3 separate regions of the Homo sapiens genome follow, and all the other regions are linked to region 1. Evidence: fine-mapped expression QTL. A gene starts in region 1. Each other region holds a variant in brackets. All regions are shown on one strand. Distances are from middle to middle.

Region 1 (8,187 bases):
TGCACCCATTTCCAAAAGAGTACCTTGAAAGGTTAACTACAGCAAATCAAGACATAAGAATTACTGGTGTTTATATCAAGGGACTTCTTTTAATAAACACAAGTTACTAAGCAACCACCAGTCAAATTAATGTCTCTAAGCCAACCACATCAATGGAAAAAAATAACACAGATTTAATTTAAAAGTTAGAGCATCAAACAATATGTGTTTTGAAGACTCAGCAGTATGCCAAATGTTAAATTGGCCTGTCCACTTGACATGCAGAGATGGAAGATTGTACTAGACGTTAATCTGATTTGCTTAGAAATGCAAATAATTTCTGACAAAAGCCACATCCAGATGTAGCTACATCCAGATTATTCCTGAGTTGAACATTCTGATGTCAACTCAGGATTTCTGAATGTACATTCACACGTTCAATTGGACAGTTCACATGTTCAGATAGGTGGAATAAGCAAGTCAACAGGTACCAATAGTATTTTTTGTTGGTTTTAGTTTTGTTTTAGAGTTTTGTTTTTGTTTTGTTTTGATTTTGTTACTGTTTCTTCAATCGAGGATGTTGGCCTTCTTAGTTGATTATATGAACTGGGATTCAATTTGATGAAATGTTTGGTGATTCATATAAAGTTATGATTTAAAAAATAGCAGAAGAGGTGATGTAGTAAAAAAGGATGAGTTCATGTCCTCTGTAGGGACACGGATGAAGCTGGAAACCATCATTCTCAGCAAACTATCGCAAGGGCAAAAAACCAAACACCGCATGTTCTCACTCATAGGTGGGAATTGAACAATAAGAACACTTGGACACAGGAAGGGGAACATCACACACTCGGGCCTGTCGTGGGGTGGGGGGAGGGGGGAGAGATAGCATTACGAGATATACCTAATGTAAATGACGAGTTAATGGGTGCAGCACACCAACATGGCACATGTATACATATGTAACAAACCTGCAAGTTGTGCACATGTACCCTAGAAGTTAAAGTACAATAATAATAAAAAGACATTCTAAAATTTGTCATTTATTTAGCAAATATTTATCAAAGAGCTGCTATGCATCAGCCCTAAGGAATGGAAATCTGGCTCTAATATCTTCAGGGATAACCATGAGTCATTTCCTGTAGTTTCAGTTGAAGCCATCTATAAATCTTTCATAAGGTCAAGAAAAAGAAGATAGTAGCAGACAGAATCACAAATCCAGTAGATTAATTAAAATGTCCCTAATTTGTAAATGTACCCACCAGGAAAGCACCTAGCACTTCCTGGACGGAATCTACATTATTTTCTCTCACATTCCTTCTACTTCTCATGTTTTGGGCAAGAATCATCAGTTTTCTTTTCTTGTAAAATGCAATCTCATTTCTTGGATTGTAGCTGTAAATTCTTACAGCTGGGAAGGGTCCTAAAGGAAGGAAATGATCAAACGGTGTTAATTAAGTCCTATGTGCTGAAAGTAAGAAGAGAGAACTATTACTAACAATTCTTTATAACTATTTTTATCAGTCCTTCTTAGGAATCAACCCCAAAGACACTCTCTCCTCCAGAAGCAAATCTCTCTATTGAGGACATCCTCAGGAAACTGGTTCCTCACTACTCCCTCCAAGCCTCCCACAAACCGTAAGAATCCTATGAAACAGGGCAAGAGTACCAAGAAACAGGCCTTGAAGGTTGAGATAGAGGTAAAGGACTTAGGTTATCTGCCTTATAATTTAAATTTTGGTGCTTACTTTATAGGTGAGGATAAGAAAACAAGTTTCTTCTTGAAATTCCCAAGAACCAGTTGCTACATAAATTACAGCCAACGTATACGCAAAAGCAGATTCTTAGTGGCAATTTGCTGTATCTGTGTCTGAACAGAAAACAATCAGCCAATTCATTTTGCAGGTAGATTCCAATAACATTTTATGCCTTTGAATGGAGAAGCTCTCATGGTGCAAATGGTAAACAAAAAGAGCCTACTGCTCAGCGACACATTAACTTGTATTAAAAATAAAGATATGTATAGTGTAGCTACACAATGCCCACTACAATCCAGTGGCAGAGTATATTTTTGAAGTGCAATGTAGCATCCATCCTGAAAACACAAAATTTCCAATGGAAACAAGGTCGGGATAAAAACAAAACACGGTGGCTTAATTTCTGTGTAAAACAACCGTCAAAACCTACCCTCAAAAAAATTGACACGAACAATCAAACATTCAGGTATAATTTATCTGCTGGAACAAATCTACGTTATTGACCTTGACAGGGCCTTAAATCATGAGACCATAAACAAGCATCCTAGTGATATCTATTATGTCTTCGGAAATAGCTTAAAATCCAGGACTTCATGTTATTGTCAGTAATGAGCAAGATGTTTGGAAAGCAGTGTGCTCACTGGGGCTTACTTTGAAAGCTGTCTTTTTTACTTACTACCGAACACTGATTTCCAGGAAGCAAGCCACCCCACCCCACTTCCCAGGCACTTGATTTTTTTTTTCAAACCTCTAGATTGGGTTCCGTTTCCTGAATTACTTATTCCTTACATAAATTTTCTTTTAAACTTCAGCAATTATGGCACCTTAGGCTCTGGGGGTATCAGCAGCGTGGGTTGTTTTAGAGAAAGTTCTGAAAAAAATATGTTTTGGAGACATTCCATTTCTTTGTGCATCTCACTGGGGGCTTTCAGCGAAAGCTTTAAGTTATTCAGGTGAGGGGCAATGTCTTAGTCGCTCATAAAGGGCATAAAAGTAACATCATCTGGAAAGGCATGGCACCTGCTCGGCCGGGGTAAAGGTCCGTTTTTCTAACCCTCGCCCCTCCCTCCTCCACACCGCGCCGCTAGAGACAGTGCAGTGGTCTCTCCCAAGGTCGACATCATCTCCAAGGCTGCAACCCAGGGCTGAACCAAAAAAACAGGCGCACCCACGTATAGGTCACGGCCAGAGTCCCGCCCTGCCACCAGCAGCCAGGTCTTCCTGCCTCCCTATCAAGGTGAAACTAACCCAGAGGGCCCAGCGGAGGGGCGCATACAGGCGGCGCCGATGGAGGCGGCCGATTGCATGACTGGCAGGAAGGAAGCGATCAGCCGCCAAAGTGCATTTTTTCCTCCCCTAGAGCCAGCCCGGGACCGGACGCTGCCAGCGGAAGGGCCGGCGCGCGCCAGGCCACGAGGCAGACGCACCCGCCGTGCGCACTTCCCCGTCCGGTGCGCGCTCTCACTCACGCGCGCGCGCCGCTACTCACTAGCAACCCTTGGTGTCCGCAGCCCGTGTGGGACGGCGACTGCGACGGCTGCCCCCGTGGCTGCCGTGTGGCCTTGGCATCCGTCCGGCTGCTGCAACCCGGGCCGCGGTGGCTTTTGCTGGAAGGCGTTGCAGCGGGGTGATACCGGCACCCGGCGACGAGGCGTCCGCTCGTTTGCCTCGGCCGTGCCTCCTCCCCCTTCTCCTCTGCCGACAGATGGAGCTTTGCTGGTTCCAGTCGCGCGGGCTCCGTGCGTCGTTCTCCTCCTCGCTGTCGGACACCCCAGCGCAGGGGACGAACAGCGTCCTCGCAAGCCCACGCGCAGGCCGGCCGACCCCGAACCTGCAGCAACCGTCCCTGCTGCCGCTGCTGCAGGAAAATAAATTGTCACTGCGATGGTCCCGGCCTCCCCTGCCCCGGCCCCTGGGTGCCGCCTCCGCCTCTGCCTCCGCCCCCTCCTCTGTGGCGGCGGCGGCGGCTTCCCGCATTCTGCAGAAAAAGCTCGCAGGTGGAAGGAAGCAGGGCCCCTGCGGATGGCCTAGAGCCCGAGTGAAGCGGTTGGGTGCGACTTTCGCATCTGAAACCCTGCACGTCTTCTCCCCAGACCGGAACCACCTAAACTCCCTTTTGCTCCACCATCAATTTCACCGAGATGGACAGGAGTGGTGCCTTTTAAGACTGCACAGTACACAAGCCTTGATGCAGCTGACCGTTAAACTGTCACTGGAGTCTGGGGAAGGATAGGGTTTTGGTGAAAATCCCACTTATACTTCATGTTAGGATTCCCTTTTTGATATTTATCCACAACTGGCTACGCCCACTATTAAGCATCTTAGCCCTTCCCCCTACCCCCAATTTGTGTGTACTTGGAAAATAAGAAGTATTAGAATATCTCCTGGATGTTATGTTACTATCACGTGTGGTGTTCTTACTACAGTTCTGGCACTGTGTCAGGCAGTCGGTACACAAAATCTTAGTCCATCTGCCACAACCCTGTATATAAAAGGGACTCATTTTTTGTTTTTGTTTTTGTTTTTTCCATGAACGAGAGACAGAGAAGTAAAATAATTTATCCCAGGTTACTCACCTAGAAAGCAGTAGAAGCTGAAATTTAAACTCTGATCCAACACTGAAAGCTGTTTCTATTGGCTTCACAGGTTCTATTAACTGATAAACATTTTATGGAGACTGCTGCTGCTGGATGAAATAGAGTCGCTTTTCTTGAGCTTGGTTGGGAGCTTACTTCCAAGTGAGAGAAATGGCTGCAGAGTGGGGTGGGGAAACACTGGCTTTTCTTAGTTAGCCTTTCCTCTGGAAACCAAAATTCTAGCCCTGGCTCAGCCACCAACTGAGTTATTTGGTCTCAAGCATTTCACCTTCTTAAGCCTCATCTCCCTGGATTCTTTTTTTTTTTTTAAATGAAGAGTTTGATTGTTGGAGGCAGCCTGCAGCCTTGATTTTTAAGAAGCAACAGTGTTGTTTTGCTTAGTTTTAAGTTGGTTCCAAATGTTGAAGTTAGGAAATTTCACAGAAATTCAGACTTTTCACATTTTCTGTAAAATCGTAACATCAGACATTTGGTCCATGGCGAGTTCTAGCAACCATCAGCTGAAGCTGAATAGCAGGTGTCGCCTTTAGACTGTGAAGACACTCTTCAGTTTTCCACAGTCCCCACCACTCCCATACACCCCCACCTCACTGACATTTGAGAATATGGTAGGCATTTGAGTTTGCAGTATTGAACCAGATAATCTCATGACCTACTGGACAATTTAAAATTCAGTGGTAATTAAGAAGGTTAGCCAGATTCCTAAAAAGCATTATGAAACAAAAAATTCCACGTACGTATTTAGAGTGGTCATTGATCATGGTCTTGCTATCTAGCATCCAAATTCTCATAAAAGCCAAAATGGCCCAATACCCATCGTCCCCTGCTCCCCAGCGGCTAGAGTACCATTTTGTGACCCAACATCAGCCTCAGAGACTCCTGTACAGTTATTTGAATCTGGATTATGTGTTTCAAGAAGAAACATTTTAGAAATGTCTCCATTATCTGTGAAGTGGGTTTTGTGTTCAGGGACAGTAGTGCCAGAGGTAACACTGCGGCAATGTCAGTGGTGTCCTAAGTGAGCTATTTGAATGGTGTGATGACCCACCTGTTGTAATTTCAGCTGCTAAGCTTCCCTTCCTGTGTAAGGAGACTTATTTGCCAAACTTCCTGTCTCTTTGGTATGCTACTTAACGACTTTCCAATATATTTCTCTTCTGATTCAGTTAGCCAGAAATGATTTCAGCGTTGTGACCAAGAACTCTGATATAGCAACTTTAGGTGTGATTTATTTCCCTTTTATTAATTGAGTTAATGAAGAGCAAGCACCAGTGTATTTATACAACTTTTATCTTAGAGAATTTTTAAGTGACCTATAGTTTTACTTGCATTTTTAAAGATTCAATCTCAATAGTAATTTAAAATCCAGATTTCTTTTTGCTCCAGAACTTTTGTTTCTCTTATTTTTGAGACAATTTTACCCTACTAAACCTTGAATGAAGATTTCAAATCTATATGCAAATACACATAAGCACTATTATTTTGCAGATGAGAAAATGAGGGCTCAAGTTACAGAATACATGAAGGCAGAGCAGTGAGGAAATCCTGGGCTATTTTCTGATATGGTAGAACAGGGTTTCGGACCTCCTGAATTCAGCAAGGGTATAATTTGCAAGTAATTACTCCCTTGAAAATCAGAGTTGACCACACTTGTAGTGAAATTCATTCCTGATAGTGCCTACTGGGTTCCACTCCAGTACTGGAAGCTGGACTGGAGACAGTGACCATGTTCCTTCACGGATCCTCAGTAGTGTGCACAGGGGAAGCCTGCTTTCTGAGGGAGCTGAGCTTTCTGTGCTTGTATCTAGATCTTCACAGTGGCACGACATAACTTCTCAGAGAGCAGCATGCCACCATTCAGTGATTTTAGGGAGGAAATCAAGTGTCACTGTAGTGTCTGCTGAAGTGCGATGCCTGCTTCTTAGGGAAGCCAATAACTCACTGGAAGCAGGTCTTCATACCCACAGGTGGATTGAAACTAGGGTTTACTCAGCCAACAGGGACTGGCCCAGTGCCTGGAAGGTCTAACAGGTGACCATCCTGTTGTTTTATGGCAACATGTGGGATTTCCCGTCCCTTACATTTTTAAACGGATGTCGCAGAGCAGAACATCCAAAGTGTAAGTGGTGACCTGGACAACGATGTGCAGTTTTCCATACATCTCATGAAATCTGGCCACAAAGACAAGCGCAACTTTCCCTTTTTTCCTCACTTTGGCCAGCAGTTCCTCTGAGAACTCACGTCTTTCAACGAATCTTGATACATTTCCTTCTGCAACGCCCTTTAGTATCTCCATCACAGTTGCTAACATATTTGACTGGATATGGATGATCATGTTTAAATTAGTAAACTTTATGCTTTCTGGATTCATGATGTGAGAAAAAATGGACATAGCTTTTGCCACCTGGTTCTGATGTCACAGGAAACAGGATGCTCTCCTGGAGAGAACTCCTTTGATTAGGGCTTCTTTTCTTAATGTAGTACAGACTTAGAAAGATTCAGAGCTATTCATTTTGTGGCCAATTGCAAAATCAAGAACATAGGTATCCTGGTGAACTTTCCATCTGGGTTTTTCATCTCTGTCAATATTTCCAAAGCACTTATATATTTGCTTTTGATAAATAACATAACCATCAAAATAGTAAATTGTGTGGAGTCTGAGAACCGTTGTAAATATTCATCTTTCCTGAGCTCCATTGCAGATTCCTCAAGATTCGAGTCGTAACACAGTCTTATGAAAAGTGGTCCAAACTTAAATTCCGCCAAAGTGACATTTTTGTTTTCTGTATGGTACTTGCAAATGATGTTTTTAGCCAGTTCCACATGGTCCCAGGACTCACGCAAATGAAGTAGGGTTCTCAACTTCCCCTTCAAGATGAGCTTGTTCTAGTTCAATTTCTCTTCCAAGTTTCTAAAATAGATTTATTTGGTGCCAGGAAGATTATATTCAACAGCCACCTTCTTATGCTGAAATTCTTTTAATTTCATAATATTATCTGTAAGTAGATATCTTTTTGCTCCAAGAGGACAGTGGCAGCAGGTGGAGCCGGAGCCTCTCATCCCGGGATACACTGAAATCTGCAGCGCTGGCAGAAGAGCTCATCTGGAGGACCAAAATGCCGCAGCCATACTGTCTCAGACTATACCAACTCCAGACTTTTTTAAAAGATAGGATTTTTTTTCTCTTACCAGTAATATTAACAAATGTTGCTTATCAATAAACATTTCTTCATTTCTGGTGAGGGTCCAATGAAATCAGCCCTCTTATCTGGTGGTGTGATTCTGTTACAGTGCTGGAAAGGAATTCGTCAGTGTGTCAAGGAACATTCTAAAATGTACTCTTCCCATCTCCTACAGTAATTCCACTTCTAAGAAGCAATTTATCCTAAGGAAATCTGAAATAAAGAATAAGATTCCTCCACTGAGATATTTATCACCAACTTTGGGTATTAAAATTATGTTTATGACGGACTTTTAATGATGTTGAAATTGCTTATGATACAATGTTAAGCAAACGACACAAAATTGCATGCGTATATATCTCAAGTAGGTAAATCTTAAATAGATAAGAATACAGGAGGAAATCCAGAAGAAATTATTTAAATGGCCTCCTAGAGATTGGTTATGGGCAATTATGGTTGACTTCTTTATACTATAATTTTAATTTTTCTATAAAGGACATGCTTTCCTTTTATTTTGGAAGAAAAAATATTTAGTAATTAAAACATAAACAGTCCTGGCGTGGTGGCTTATGCCTGTAATCCTAGCCCTTTGGGTGGCTGAGGTGGGTGGATCACGTGAGCCCAGGAATTCAAGACCAGCCTCTACTAAAAATACAAAAAATTAGCCAGGTA
Region 2 (8,187 bases), 39 kb after region 1:
TATAGAAACAGCTCTTGATACATAGCTCCCCTAATCTTAAAGTTATTAAGATTAGAAATACCTTTTTTGGAAAACTGAAAAAGAGATGAGAATGGGAGGCGTTTACTATTTGGAAACCCATAAAGTACTATTTAATACAACAAAATGGTTTACATACTAATTAACTGGGAAGTCTTAACACTAACTTTCTAAACTGAAGGTAGATTTTGTCAAAACTCTGCTAACATTTCCCATCAAACATAAAATAAAATTCAAAGTCCTAACCATGGTCTACGAGACCCAATTTTCCTTGGTCCCATTTGCTTCCCAAATTTCCCGCCACTCCCCTTGCTCATGCAGCCATGCTGACCTTCCTGCTATTCCTAGAACACATCAAATCGAGCTCTTGTCTCAAAGGGCTTGACAGTTGGATTCCCTTTGTCTGGAAGTTTCTTCCTCCTGAAAGTTACCTGGCTCATTCCTTCACTTAAGACAGATCATGGATCTCTGCTTGAATCTCACCTTCAAGAGATCTAAAAGAGTGGCTTTGTCATTCTTTATGTATTCTCTTACTGTGCTTTACTGAAGTATTATAATTTTTAAAAATGTCGGGTTTGTTAGATGAAAGTGGATTTGAGAGTCCTATGTGTTATGATTTTTATGATTCCCAGTTTGCAGGTTGCCGAAGAGAAAGGTATAATGATAGCTTCCCTGACCTAAATGTCGGTTTAATAAACATGTGTCTATCTTGTAGAAAATAATATAGTAGGTTATGTGAGAGTTACAAGAATGTAAGAATAAAACATTTGTTTTCTCCAAAGAATTTACTGCAGTCATAAGGCCAGACACAAATAATTCTCCCAATGAAATCCCTTGTGGGAAATTCTTGATGTTAGTTGATTTCTAATTTGCCACAACTCAACTTTCCTGCCTTTAATGGTCAAATTTATTTTAATTGGACTTTATAGTAATAACCAAAAACTTACTTGTTACACTGAAATAATACAACTAATCCTGGAACCCTAAAGTCCACACCCTTTTTTAGCTAATTGGTGCCACTAAAGTAAACAATTTTGAAAAATGAAAAAGATGCTAATTGCCTTGATGCACCATCAGACCACATGAATCTTCAGAATCAAGCAAGCATTTCTGCAAAGGCAACGTTTTCTCCCAACATGCTTAAGATTAGGCGTGATGAGGATTTGAAAGGGGATTTTAGCACTATGGTTTTGTGGCTTTACCAACAGTTGACCTTTGGCAGGTATCAAGATCATATTATGCTTAAAACAAGGTGGGATGAGGTCTTTCAGCAACCTCAGGACTTCCCGTTTCTATATATGTGAATGAGAATTTCTTCCGCCACAGAATATTCAAGACACAAGGAATTGGAGGTAAGAGTTGATTTTAGGAAAAGGAGGTGAAGTAGATGGCAGGCAAGAGAAGAAGCTTTTATAGAGAAGCCTTCCTTGAGAAAAGTAAATGAAGATGAGGTCAAGAAACAGTGGCTTCAGAGCTGCACGCTAATGGAAGTCAGCCCCTACCTGGGAAGTAGTGGTAATTTCTGGGACATAAAATCAGAAAGTCATCATACATTTGAATGAAGGACCAGAGAGGAAAAAAATAATTGTCTTCAGTATTAGTATGATCCAAAATGGAGTAAAAACTATTTGCAAATATATTATTGAAACTGCAAATCACAGTAGACCTATAAAATTTCCTGTAAGCAAGAATTGGCAAGTAACAATTCATAACACTATGTCTATTATTACCACATTACAATGTGTGAAATGTTACTGATATTTTTTTCCTGTCATTATTTTTCCAAGTATGTGAAACATTTATAGTTGTTTTTATAGGTTCACTTACATGCTAGTCCTCTAATCCAAATTCTTTAACTGAATTTAAGGGGATTTTAGTAATTTTGTTAACTCTGCAGATGCTTGGGAAGGTTTGTCGTATAACATGATACAGAATGTGATGAATGCTATTATGTACCTCTTGTGAGTATCTACTGGGTTTTCATCATCTCTGTATCCCTAGAGCCTAGCACAGTTCTCTTGGAAAGTATTGAGATCTCAAAGTCTGTTGAATTGAATTGAAGAAAATAATCAAGGACTATAGGCACTCCTGGAACTTTTGTGGGTAGAGTTTATTATAAATTAGTGCATGGAGTTGCATAGGAGTGGAGAGAGGCTTAATGGGTTAAAACACTGGTTCTGGAGTTAGATAGACCAGAGTATAAATTCTAGTTATGCTACTCACTAGCTATAAAGAGCTCTGAGCCTGTTTTCTCATCTGTAAAGAGGGATAATATTATTTTTGTTCTAAGATTGCTGTAAGGGTTAAATGAGATGCTGCTAAGGTGCTTAGCATTACAGATGGTATATAAAAAGAGTTCAGTATATAGTAGGTATTATTACTGTGAAACTTTTTACTGTTATTTTTTATTTTTCCCAAAGGAGACTTACATTTAGAGATTTAGTGCTAAAATACCTGTTTAGGTCCATTAAATGTTTAGAGACATTGGCTGCTGAGAGTTCAAATCCTGGGCCCTTCCCCAGCCAAACTGTCTTCTACGTTAAGAATAAGACAGTGTAGAAAAGTCTTGGGATGTCAAAAGGTAAAATGAGGCACGGTTAAGCTCAAAAGAATTTATTTGAGCAAATACCGATTCAGGAATTGGACAGCTGTGGTTTGCAGGCTTTTTGGAGGGAATGCAAGGAGAAGGCTTTTATAGGGTGAAAAAGGGAGTAAAGCACAGAAAATATTTGATTGGTTGCAGTTATAGAGTTGCTTTATTTGGTCGATTCTGCTGGAAAGTCTCTATGTAAGTTAGGCTTCTGATTAGTTAACTTGGTTTCATTTTTCTTTAATATAGGGATTTATAAGAAATAGCTGAAGTTAAGTTTTGCTTATGTTTGCAAATTGAGCAAGGTTAAGGTCACTTATGAGGTCTAAATGGATTTGTCTGGCCCAGAGATTCTTCAAGCCTGGTCTCCATTATAACTTACTTTAACGGAAATATATGCCAGTTCCTGTTGCTGGTGTATTGGAGCAGGCTGGAGCTGGCTTGAGTCAGCTTGAACTGGTTTGTGAAAGCCAATTTTGCTCAACTCTGAGTTCGTTGCTCTCTCTTTTGTAGGTTGAAACTAGCCAGGTGGGAGTGGTTACACCAATGAAATGGAAGAAGACCACAAAGGTTTTCTTTCTTTCTTTTTTTTTCTCTTACTCCCTCCTTTTGTAGAACTGGATGTTACCTAGTTATGGGCACCCTACTGCCTTCTCTCTTCTCTGTGAATACCTCTGTGGTGGTCTGAGGTAGTAGGGGAATATCAGGGCTTCTGATTTGCCATTTTCTAGCAGCCAGAACCCACTCTTCCTCCACCCTTACTCCTCGCTGGAGGTGAAGGATCTTCTGCTTTCCCCTGGTCCTCATGACCTCAGAGTTTCTGATGTCCTGGAGTCAGAAGTGTGGCAATGGGGTTTTTTTAGCTTCCTGGCAAGGAACATAACTTCATGTTCTCAAACAGACCTTTCAGGATAAAGAGTAGAAAACATAGATCAATATGTGCCCTGCTTCTATTTCCCCTTCTGCTATCGTTCATGAGGAACTATGACTTCTCTACACGTTCCAGCCAGTGGTGGGACCTTCCTCCATGTTACACAGAGACGGAGTGGGCCTAGAACAGCCTTTAAAAAATTATTGCGACTTTTTTATTTGTCTGAAAGAAGACATTTCCTAAGGAATTTATAAAATACAGTATGTGAAGAGTGAGTTATCAGAAACAAAGGCTTGGGATTAATTGTAGAAATCAAATTAAACCCAATAGGTTTTTATTATCATTCTCCAAGGTTTCTTAACTTGAAGAGAAAGAAAAACATCTTCCTTCCTTTTCTGAGAAGACATTTCGTGAATCACAAGGCTCTTTACCGGAATCATTTTGCTCCAAAACCTACA[A/C]ATCCTTCTCAGAAGTTTTCATGGAACATTTTAAGTGAGGGGAGCTTGTAGCATGGAGATGGCTAATAAACAGTGAACCAATTCCTCTGAGCCACAGGCAAAGTTCTACACAGTCTTTCCTTAGATTGGGAATTACAGAAGCTCCATTATACTTTAGGGAAAACAACACTAAAAAGTGGGGGTAATTTGGGGGAAGCTTTGCTTTTAAAGACATCCATAGTGGTACAAGTTGTTCAGATGTTTCTACACTATTAAAATAACAACAAATATTTTTTCAGCTGTGATATCTATTGTACTTAGAGCAGTGCAAAATATTATTAAGTAATACATACAGTTAATCATCAACATGCTGATTATTTTAGTTAATCATCAACATACCGGATGCGTCATATTCTACCCATGGACGCTTCTTAAATTTTAGTGCCTGGGCAAGTAAGATGGAAGTGAACAGAGTGAAACCTTACCTCCAAATTCTTGACTCCTTTTAAAGACAAACATGTGGGAAGGCAAAAGGACACAAAAAATTTTTCCTAATGTTCCATTATTCCAGAGTTTTGAATGCTCCTTAGCTAATGTGAGTTTAAAAGCTGCAATGTTACATTAAATTTTTACTTCCATTATGGGGGGCTTGTTTCTTTTACCTTTGCAGAGATTCTCAACCCTCACTGTGCATCAGAATCACCAGGGAAATTTAAAGAGCACTAATGCCCCAATCCTATTCTTACAGATTCTTATTTAACTGGTCAATAGTGGGGCCTGGGTCGTGTTTTAAACATTAAGTTGGTGCAAACATGATTGCAATATTTAGCCAAGGTTGAGAACCACTGAGGCGAAATATTGTCCTGGTCCTTACATGATCGATTACCTTCTAAACATCAACCCCTTTCCTAGCCTCACTTCCCAGCCAGATCGGATGAATCCATGTGTCAACCAACAAATGACTTTTATCCATGTTCTGGGTGCTTGACCTTATGGAAGCCTAACTTCAGGAGGGTTACAGTCTAGTTAAGGAGACTACATTTAACCCACTAGCTCATTTAAGGCCAATGAGCTGCTTGAGGTTCTGTATATTTCCTGCTGCAGGTAGGAAAGATGAAAGAGATTTCTTGGAGATGAACCATGAGATGGGCCTTGAAGAATAGATAGCACAATTTAAAAGATAAGGATGGCAAGCCAGTAGCCCAAACATAGAAGTGAGGAAATTGACCTGACCAGAGATGGGAGAGCTTGCAGAACAGCAGTGGTTTATACACAGTTGGCCCACTGAGGGGCACTTTAAAAACCAGGTAAAAGTCATAGATACCTCACTTTCTAGGAACTTGGGCACATTACACCCCATTTCAATACCAATTAGTGCAATTTAAAAAGATAAAACAAGATTATGTGAGAGAGAGAAAGTTCCTGGGCTGGGAGGCTGAGTGGTCAGGGAAGTCCTCTCTGAGGAGGTGATTCATGGGCTGATACTTGATCTGGCCTAGCAGGAAGCCCGCCATATAGGTCACATGCAAGTGTAAAGGCCAGAAGACAGAAATGAACCTGGAATGCCCCAGAAATCACCACAAAGTTGTGAGCAAAAGGGAGATTGATAGATGAGGCTGAAGAGAAAAGTTAGTCAGTGGGCCCTATCAATCCTGTGTCTTAGCTTTTCAGGTTGTCCAGAGCACGGCTCTAGGGAGCGCTGTTCACAGGTTAGCCCATGGGAACTCATGCACCCTGCTGGTAAATACTCCTTCTCTTCAATCTCCTCCTCGCCTACTAGTCTGTTTTCCTCTGTGCCTTCACTGAAATCTGGCTTTTCCTGGGCATTATGACACCTTCTCTTATGGTGGCTGCTGATTCAGTCTACTTCTTGGTCACCGTTGTTTTTTGACCATGGTTCAATTTCTTACTTGAAATCTCTGCTTATGGCCCTTTCTCTACATTCTCCCTTCTGTCCACTGTATTCCAGGGCCCACTTCCACCTCCCTGGAACACAAGTTCCCCTTTCTTTCTGTCCCCCGGGGTCATCCTCAGTGACCTCAACATCCATAAGCTTCATTCTCCCTTCTTGACCTGTGTTTCTACTCCAAATCAGATACCCAACAAGGCCACCCTTGACTTCTCATCCCTAGACAGAGTTTATCTGTAACATCTCTCTGATAACTTCTAAACTGGTTACTTTTCTAATAGACCACATGTACGAACTGTGCTCTGATCCTTCTCTGTGTTTCTATTTGCTTGTCTCTCTCTTTTTGCAAGTTCATTTGTCTTTATCTGGCTTACATATGATGCCCATTAAGACTGAATTTAATGGTAAACCACTCTCCTCTCATTTCTCTTGCCTGACAGACATGTTTCCTAATCCTTGCTCTTGCCCTCTTCACTTTCTGTACTCTTCCCTCATCTAGGTTTGCTGAAGAAAATCACAAACTCACATGGCAGGCTCAGTCAACTCTATCTTCTTACTGTGTTTCTACAACCTGGTTTTCAAAGCCATTTTATATTTTTATTCATTTCATGTAGACAGTTTTAATTACGATGGTCCAAAATCTTCCCCATCATGCTCAAAAGTCTCATCTACCCTTGTCTCAATCACATCTCCTGTCATTAATCCATTCATCTTTTTAAATGTCAATGCTATTTATTTAGTTATTGGATTAGTCTGTTCTCATGCTGCTAATAAAGATATACCCAAGACTGGGTAATTTATAAAGGAAGAAGTTTAATTGACTCACAATTCCTCATGGCTGAGAAGGCCTCACAATCTGGCAAAAGGCAAATGAGGAGCAAAGTCAATCATGGCAGCTGGCAAAAGAGAGCTTGTGTAGGGGAACTCCCCTGTATAAAACTATCAGATCTAGTGAGACTTATTCACTATCATGAGAACAGCATGGGAAAGACCCACCCCTATGATTCAATTACTTCCCACTGGGTCCCTCCCATGACATGTGGGAATTATAGGAGCTACAATTCAAGATGAGATTTGGGTGGAGACACAGCCAAACCATATTAGTTATCTAGATGTATCTATTTATTTATGACAAATATATAGTAGTATAATGAATGAAGATCAAACCTCTGACTTTCTGGCAAAAATTTCAGTCAGTCTAAACTTCTTTCCATCCATGTAGCTCTCTTTTCTCCCTTGCTTTGGCCTTAGAGCCAGAATTTTCCTTCTATGTAGGAGACTAATGTTTCCATCTTAATGCTCTCTATCCTATCATCTCTTCACTCTCTTTGATCAATTATCTACCCTCTCATAACCACTCCTGTCCATCTTCATTGGCTCCTTATGCTTTAATAATTATAAGAGTAGCTAACATTAATTGAGGGTTTACTGTGACTCAGATCTGAGCTAAGTGCTTCATCTGCACAGTTACATTTAATTCTTTCTGAAACTTATAAAGAAGGCATGATTATCAAAAGCAGAAGGAAACTTAGCATGAAGAGTCTAGGTAACTTGTCCAAATAACATAGCTGTTAAGTCGCAGAGTTGAGATTGGAACCCAGAGAGTTTGTTTCCAGAGCCTGGATTTGTAACCACTTGATGACACCACTTTGCCTACAAACGTGTGGAACGTTGGCTGGACACTGCTACCCCCCTCTTTGAAGTCTCTAGCTTTCCCTAACAGCTTTTTCACTGCCAAACTGACTACAATTCCTCTCCAATTGCATCCTCTAATTCTTCATAGACAATGTGCTCAGGCCTCTGTATTCTTCCTTCAGCCCCATCACTGTATGAAAATTGGCCTCTGCATGGCTGCTAATGATCACATTCAATGATCTTTGTCTTCCTTCTTGAAACTTTCACTTCTTTGCCTTTGAGTCTTAACGTTTTTCTGTTTCTTCTGCAGACTCTCTGATGACACTTCTTATCTCTTGGTGGATATTGCTGATTCTAGGTCAGGTTGGAGAAGGAGTCTGGATGTATAACCAGTATAACCAGCAAGTCAGTGCCACAAGTGGACAGATCAATATCCCGAATACAGACTGTAGCTTAATTTTGGACACAAATATCAAATGCGAAGTCTTGTAGCCAGAAGACATTTTGAAGGCTGATTTTTAAGACTAAAGTGATTGGAGATAGAATGTACGCATTCTGCAGTCATTCCCCTTGATTTGACTCTTGGCCATGCCAGTTGTGAACTATGTCACTTTGGGCAAGGAAAACAATTTCCCTTAGTTTCATCTGTGCAAAACAGGTATATTAATACTACTTTAGAGGGTTGTTGTGAGGATTAATATAGAATAACTGAGCTACTCAATAACTG
Region 3 (8,154 bases), 43 kb before region 1:
AAAGAAAGCCATTTCCAATTCAGTCTGTAAGAGAAAAGGAAACAAACAACTTCAGCAAATATTTACCGGATACTACATTAGTTTGTGAGGGCTGCCAAACAGAATACCACAGACCAGATGGCTTAAACAACAGAAAATTATTTTCTCACAGTTCCGGAGGCTGGAAGTCTGAGATCTAGGTTTTGGCAGGGATGGTTTCTTCTGAGATCTCTCTCTCTTTGGCTTGCAGATGGCAGTCTTCTTTCTGTTTTCCCATGGTCTTCCTTCTGTGTATGTCTGTCCTAATCTCTAATTATAAGGACACAACTCATACTGGATTAGTGCCCACTCTACTAGCCTCATTTTAACTTAATTATTTGTGTAAAGGCCCTATCTCCAAACTCAGTCATATTCTGAGGTATTGGGGGGTTAAGGACCTCAACACATGAATTTGGGGGACACAATTCAGCCTATAACAAATACACATGAGGTGTCAGGCACTGTGTGCAAACTGACTAGCACTGAAAATCAAAGGAAGTTCTTAATTGTTTCTTTTTTTTCTACAGAAACACAAATCTGAAAAGAAATGAAGAACCATCTTTGCCTTAGGATGTGGCAAATGGAGCTTTGGAACTGATTCATATTCAAAAGAAGGATCTCCTGCCCTAGCAACACAGCAAGACCTCATTTCTACAAAATAGAAAAAAAATAGCCAGGTGTGGTGGTGAGTGCCTGTAGTCCCAGCTACTCGGGAGGCTGAGATGGGAGGATCGCTTGAGCCTACGAGATCAAGGCTGCGGTGACCCATGATTATGCCATTACACTCCAGCCTGGGCAACAGTGTGAGACCTTGTCTCAAAAAAAGAGAAGGTGCTGTCTGCCTGTTGTGAAAGAGACCTTCCATAGATAGTTTATCCAATGAACACTGGTGCTCATGCACATGTGTGTGTAGTGGCGTCTCCAGGTTGGTTAACAGGGTCTCTGCCTCACGACCAGTCCATTACTTAGTGATGTGGTCACATTTCTGTTGGTTCTTTCAGACACAGCCCCAGGGCCTCATTCTGCCAGCCAAAGTCAGGCTCTGGTTTGCCGCCTCCAACAGTCCCACTCTGTGAGATCCTGGTTAATTTGGTTTGTACTTGGCAAAAAAAAAAAAAAAAAAAAAAAAAAAAAAACCTACAAAAAAGTGCCAAGAATGTCTCCTTTATTTAGGAAATACAATATACTTTCTTAGTGAAAATGAGTTCTCTTCTAGTTTGCTATTCAGAAGGGACATAATGGTTTTGCATACTCATAGCTTCTCTTTCTAGTCTTTCTGGAAATCTAAGATGCTAAATGTTCTTGGCCCTCAACTGAGTCCTTTCTATCTTTAGGCACCATTCAATGTCCATAGCTTTTTCATCGGACAACTCTCATTTTACATCCTCTTAGTGTATTACTATAATTTTTAATTCTATACAAAGGATCTCACTCATTTCTCAACTATCCATTGTCCCAACAATTATTTTTACTTGAATAAAGAATATAACATTTTCCTTTGATCAAGCATATCAGAATATCATGGTGTGTTTAAGTGTTAAGACACTGAGGACAGCACCACTCAGGAAAAAGTGAGGTGTCTATGGAGCCAGCCTTGCAGAGTTAATCTGCTCTTAACTAGTGGTGGCCATAGACTAAAGTCTCCATGCACAAGGCAAGCCAAGCTCTACTTCTGAAGTCTGATACCTGAGCTCTCCATAGCTAGAAGATTCCATGAAACAGAAACAAGCCACTGACTTGCCCATAGTAGGTGGTTCTGTATAAATGAGAACAGGAACAGAATTCAGGTGACATGATACCAGAATTGAGAACTAGACAAGCAGGGAGGGTTGATGCATTAGTCCATTCTCATGCTACTATAAAGAACTGACCAAGGCTGAGCAATTTCTAAAGGAAAGAGGTTTAATTGACTCACAGTTCTGCATTGCTGGGGAGGCCTCAAGAAACTTAAAATCATTGCGGAAAGGGAAGCAAAACACGTCCTTCTTCACATAATGGCAGGAAGAAGTGCTGAGCAAAAGGGAAAAAGCCCCCTATGAAACCATCAGATATCCTGAGAACTCACTCACTATCATGAGAACAGCATGGAGGTAACCACCCCAATGATTCAATTACCTCCCACCAGGTCCCTCCTACTATGATTTAAGATGAGATTTGGGTGGGGACACAGCCAAACCATATCAGATGTTAACCCATCCAAGCACAGAGTACAGGAAATACCACTCTGGAATATGGAAATCATTGAACTAAGCAGTGGAAGCTAGTACATGGAAACATGAGTTGTTTAGGCAACTCAGATACAATGTCATGAGGAAAGCAAAGGCAGGGAGAGCTGTGGCTGGCACAGAAGACATTGGGAAGACAGAAGGTTTCATAGGATTAGTTTGGCCCTGTTGAAAAGTTGTGGAGATCCAGGGAGAGATGGCTGGAGAAGGAAACTTAAACGTTGAAAAGAAAAAAGAAGAAAGCTAGACTAGAGTAATGTAAGGCCCTAAAGGATGAAAAGGGAGACTAAGAAGTGATCACAAGTTTCTCGATCAAGGAAAGGGCTGTCAGCCCAGGATTTCCCAATGTGCCTGGGAGCAATGTCTTCCAAGATAAAGATTTCACCTGCAGAACTAGTCTTCAGTGTCCCAAAGGACCTATTCTCAAATAACTCAACAATATCACTTCCATTCTGCCCTCTGTGTATCTGCAGCTAAGATTTCTCCACACTGTTTCCATCCTCAGGTTTTTCCTACCAATTCAACTTGCTAACAGAGTTAGCAAGTTGACTAAGAATTATCAGTTATTTCTTATGTCTCATTTCTTCTTCCTATCACCCCTGTTCATTTTCACAGTAACAGGTTTTGTACTTTTATCTGAGTCTTTTTTTAAAAAAAAAATCCTCTCTCAAGCTTCTCTACTTTTAGTCTTCTAAATCAAATTAATGAATTGTCTGCTATCCCAGGCCCTCTGACACCTGATCCCTGAATAGAAGTGTTGTTCTTGTATCTTACACAATGATTCACTGCAGAGATATCTCTCTGAGCCTGGGATTTCATGACACTGAAAACACAGAACAAGCTTTATCAATGGCAGCCATATTTCATCTACACATGGAAGCTGTTCACCTACCTCAGGGGAAGGTTTCAGAAACAGATGGTCTGCTTTGGAGACTATATACACTCAGAATTTCTTATTTGGAATTACATTTTACATGAATAAAAAATATAGCAAATCATCTAAAGCTCTAAAAATGTATGCAGAGACCTCTATAAATACAAGACATGTTGTTTGCAGCACAATTTATTATCTGGCCATAGTATTTGGGTACATTATCAGGTACCGATTTAACACCATGTAACCTCTCTTGACACAGAGCAACCCAAAAAGAAAACTTTAAAATGTGCAACAGCAATAAATATCAAGCTTTGTCATCTAAAATGTATAAATATAAAATATCAGTCATTTCTGGAAACATCTTAAGAAAATCCGGCAACCACATGTCCATGAGTAGGTGTCTGATGTTGACGGTGCTTACATTCAGAACATATCACCTCAGATCCAACACAATTATTTTTATGT[C/A]TTTTACCAACACATGTTTGCATATCTAGGAAAGAAAAAATTGGTTTTACCATATGTTTGATTTCACCATAATGTTTACCATATGATTTTCTTTAGGGAGGAAGTATAGATTTCCTAATTTTAATTTGTTCCTGATTTTTAAAATATTTCCAATCAGAACAAATACAATCACATTTATTCATTTTCAACAACAACAAAAATATTTACAGGGGTTGCCAAATAATTTTCATTTTAAGTAAATTCTAACGTCAATATAATGTTCTCTGATGTTATAGCCACAGAACCTCCAAGAAAATTAGGAAAAAAAAAGGCGTAGTCAAATGTTTCTTTTGGACTATGCAAAGGTAATCAAGAAGTATGATCATAGTTTCCATCAATTGCTATGAAAAAACTAATTTGGCCATATCAAGCAGAAAGAATTCATGCAACATTTTAAATGTCATTTTCTATGATAATTGTTTACTTATTTGGACTCTGAAGAAAACTTTTAAATATCATACATATACATAAGCGGAAAGGTAACTTTGTGCACCATTAATTCTGCTACAGAAATACTGATGTTTCCTTGTAAATACAATTATTTTGAGAATAAATCAGAAATTAAGTATACAGATAGATTAATTTTCTGAGATAAAACTCCAAACTAAGCAGTACAGTATTTTATCTTATATTAGACTGCTACTATTTATTTAAAAACAGATTGGGGGGGCAGTGAACAAGAAATACCTGGAAAAATAACTAATATGATGTACTCACACTGAACAGCCTGGGCTCCTTGGTGTGTGGATGAAAGCCCTTTTTTTTACAAGCAGAAACCTCAAGCATGCCAGCATTGGTGAGCCTGAAGATGCCAGTGCTAAATTTCAGAGCAAAAACAAGATAGAAAAATTAAGGATCATTTGGGCATTCCAGATGCTTTATTTGAACAGCACACACATACATATTCCTCAGATGGGATTGAGAAATCACAAACTAGGAATTCCATAGTGATTTTTTTTTTAAACCAATGACTGGTCCAGAGGAGAGAAACCCAGGAGGAGGCAATGCTGCTGCTAAGAGCCTGCAGGACCGTTAAGGGGACAAGGCAAATAAGCTATCGTGTGTGACCCCAGAGGAAAGGCCAAAGCCCCACTAGAGAGTCTCATGAGAGGAAATTACAAGTGGCAGATATTTCGAATCTTCTAATTATGTTAATACAGATTATAGCAATAGCAAATATGTATTGAGTACCTGCTGTGGTACCAGGCACTATGCTGAGCACTGTACATAAACTATTATCTAATTTCATCTTTACATCCATCCCCGATGGGCAGGTATCAGGGATGAAGAGGCAGAGACCCACAGTGGTCAAGTATCCTGCCTAACACACCACTTGAGGGGTGGAGCCAGGATTTCAATATGTTTTTTTGATTCCCATGCTCATAACTACTCTACAATAATCATTGTTCCCCAAAGCTAGAAAGGTTTTTTTCTCAGCTAAGGCAAGAACATTTCTTATGGTAGAACATAATACAGTAGAAATAAGTCCTAAAAAGGCTAACTGGGATAGCATCTTTCTTAAATGTTATTCACTTCAAAGTCACGCTAACTGAAGAAAGAAAATCAGTAATTCTGCCACTGAAAGGACCTTAAACTGCAGAGCTATAGGTCTATGGCAGCTGACTACTACCCATCTCTTTTTCCCGAGGGCGTTGTGTGCTTGCCAATCCAAGTACCACAACCTGGTGTCTGGACACACAGGAACCCAGCAGCCCTGGACAAAGCCTTCTTTGGTCTCCCCTGAAGAGTTACACTTACTCTTTATGCTTTGGTGAGCAAACAATGGCAATGGCCTCTGGCAACATGAGTTGATAGGAACAGTGAGTGTGAAGATCAACGCTGGATAAAAATGCAGTTTGAGTGGGATGTGTCTATAAATAGAAAATAAGATAATCTTACTAGGATAGCTGTCTTAGCCAAGGCCATAGGCTATTTTAATAGAAAACTCTGTTTTTTTTTAGTTTTTACCATCATTAATCAAATAAGGATTTTTAAAAAGGTTTTGCTGACATAATCCTTCCCTTTATGCCAACTATTTGCTATTTTGGAATAACTACAATTCTGAGAAGAGGCTCCTAGAAGTGTTAGTGTACTTTCTTCTTTTTGGGAAAGAAAGAGCTGGAAATTAATTTGCTAGGGGCTTTAAATAGATTCTCATATAATTATCACAACTCATTTATGAGATACTTATTTTATTATCTCAATTTTACATACAAGGATCCCAAAACTAAGGGAGGTTACATAATGTGCCTGTGGTCACACGGCTGGTAAGGAGCAGAGCTGTGATTGGAAACCCTGGGCACAAGATACATATATACAACATTATGAACATTAAAAGAAAGTTTTCACTAAATAGACCACATGCTGCTGTGTATCCTTTTGTGGATTGTCATTTCCTATAAATGGGAGAATGGGAGACTCCAAGTTGTTGAAGGTATTTGGGACTAATCTCGCATAGCAACTAAATACATGGGGAGAAAAAAAGGGGGATTATAAATTACAAGAAATCTGCCAAGTTTCTGGCTATATACAAATGTGTTTATGCATGGCCAATCGGAGGTTCATATTTGAATATAAAAAATAAATGCACACCTAGTTATTTTAGAAATTCATATTAAACCCTAATTACTCTTAGAAAAAAGAATGTGACTATTTTAATCATGAAACAAAGATTCTTGGCACCACTCTCTAGGTCCTGACTCCATTACTCACTAGCTATATGACGCTGAAGATTTCTTAACCTTCTCTTGCCCATTTCATCATCTGTAAAATTGGGATAATATTTTCTGCATGGGATTGTTATGAAGATCAAATAGGACAGTCCATTAAAATTCCTGGAACAGTGCTTAGCGCATAGAAATAAAAGTCATTAGCTGTTGTTATTGCTAGTGTTATATTAAATGTATTTATTAACTAAAAGGCACAGAGCCATAGTAGTAGCTAAATGCCTTTACACAAAACTATATTCTATTAAAGAAATGTAAGATTTTAAAACTATTTTTAGGCCAGGCATACCGGCTCATGCCTGTAATCCCAACACTTTGGGTGGCCAAGGTGAGAGGATCAGTTGAGCCCAAGAGTTCAAGACCAGCCTGGACAATATAGGTAGACTCCATCTCTCCAAAACAAACAAAAAAAAAGTTTTTTTAATTAGCTAGGCATGGTGGCATGTGCCTGTAGTCTCAACTACTTGAGGGGGCTGAGGTGAGAGGAGCGCTTGAGCCAGGGAGGTTGAGGCTGCAGTGAGCTGTGATCACTCTACTGCACTCCAGCCTGGACAACAGAGCAAGATCCTGTCTTGAAAAAAAAAAAGGCAAGACAACGTTTTTTTTCGGCTTTAATAGAATGAAGGTAAAATCAGATGATGATTTACAGAAAGGTACATGTTCTGCAAGGAAAAAATAACACTTGGCATATAAAAACTTAGATCAACAAAGGAATGGAAATTATCCTAACTTTTAAAATGCAAATCTTCAGTAGGGGGTATGAGTGGGAGTATCTGACAGCCTGTTATCTTACAAGGAATACCTTCTCTTTGTAAAATAGAGCCGTCTATGTCTTCGTGAGAAATTAAAAATTGTTCAAAGAAACCACAGTGCTGTGGAGGCAGCAAGCAGGTTATTAAACAGACAAATCACTCTGCTTGTCAAGTTATTTGAACACAGAATGCACACCACATGACCTGAGTCCTTCATTTCTACCAAAAGGAATTATGTCCATTCCAATTAGGACAGTTTTCCCATGGGAGAATGAGGCTCCCATTCCCTCACTCTACAGAAATGAAAATGATGATGATGATGATAACAATGGCAGCAGATGCCATTTATTGCAACTGTATAATGTGAACTAATCACTTTTCATGAGTCATATCATTGAATTCTCACAGCAACAAGATAAGTACTATTATAATCCCCATTTTGCAGATGAGGAAACTGAGGTAAGCAGGAAAGTGAGTAACTTGCTGATGCTCATAAAACTAGTTAAACCAAAATGTCTAAAGTCAAATACATGTCTGTCTGACTATGTTTCAGACCTTTTATTCCTATGACTAATTTGTATTTGAAAAAAGCCAGCTCTGGAATTTGTTGCTATTATTATACTTAATAAAAACCGTCATAAAAAGTCATTACAATCACTTAGGTTTAGAAATGTAACATTTTTGTATTTTCATCCAACCACAATAATTTGATACGGTGAAATGAGTTTAACAAAAAGTCCTAAAATTCAAGAATTATGCTAAACTTATTAAACAACTTACCTTCATAATTGCATGCATTATGTCCACGGTAGGTCATAAGGGGAAAATTTTTGTTTCTAATTTGGAAAATGTTTTGTTAGATAAACTAACATTGACTTGTCAGTGTAAATGCATAATTTAATGGACTGTCATTCTTGCTAGAATTTGTTTTGCTTTAAAATGCATTCTTGTTACAGAAATCATGTTACGCTAAATAAGGCATTCTTTTTATAGAAATCATGTTAAGCTAAATAATATAGCAATTTCCAGGCAAAGTGTAATGCATATTACTC

The links. PIP is the estimated chance that this variant, and not a neighbour inherited with it, causes the effect.
Region 2: its variant is fine-mapped to the expression of STAMBPL1 in whole blood (INTERVAL, PIP above 0.99).
Region 3: its variant is fine-mapped to the expression of STAMBPL1 in whole blood (TOPMed, PIP above 0.99).

What each region holds. Positions count from the first base shown.
Region 1 is chr10:88,875,677-88,883,863 of GRCh38, reverse strand. It overlaps STAMBPL1 (STAM binding protein like 1), which reads right to left and starts at 3,619. Exons shown (of 11, transcript NM_020799.4): 1 at 3,226-3,619. LOC124902551 reads left to right here and starts at 3,200. Exons shown (of 1, transcript XM_047426134.1): 1 at 3,200-4,130. The coding sequence starts at 3,442. The coding sequence ends at 3,969. It also overlaps the pseudogene PTCD2P2. RefSeq lists enhancers at 691-1,890, 2,911-3,020 and a silencer at 3,601-3,730.
Region 2 is chr10:88,836,394-88,844,580 of GRCh38, reverse strand. All of the region lies in intron 1 of ANKRD22 (ankyrin repeat domain 22), which reads left to right. Among named protein-coding and RNA genes, the nearest start is that of ANKRD22, 11 kb to the left of the region's middle. The variant A/C (reference allele first, on the strand shown) is at 3,938.
Region 3 is chr10:88,918,624-88,926,777 of GRCh38, reverse strand. It overlaps STAMBPL1 (STAM binding protein like 1), which reads right to left. Exons shown (of 11, transcript NM_020799.4): 9 at 5,383-5,495; 10 at 4,342-4,441; 11 at 3,291-3,610. The coding sequence ends at 3,554. Among named protein-coding and RNA genes, the nearest start is that of ACTA2-AS1, 10 kb to the left of the region's middle. The variant C/A (reference allele first, on the strand shown) is at 3,586.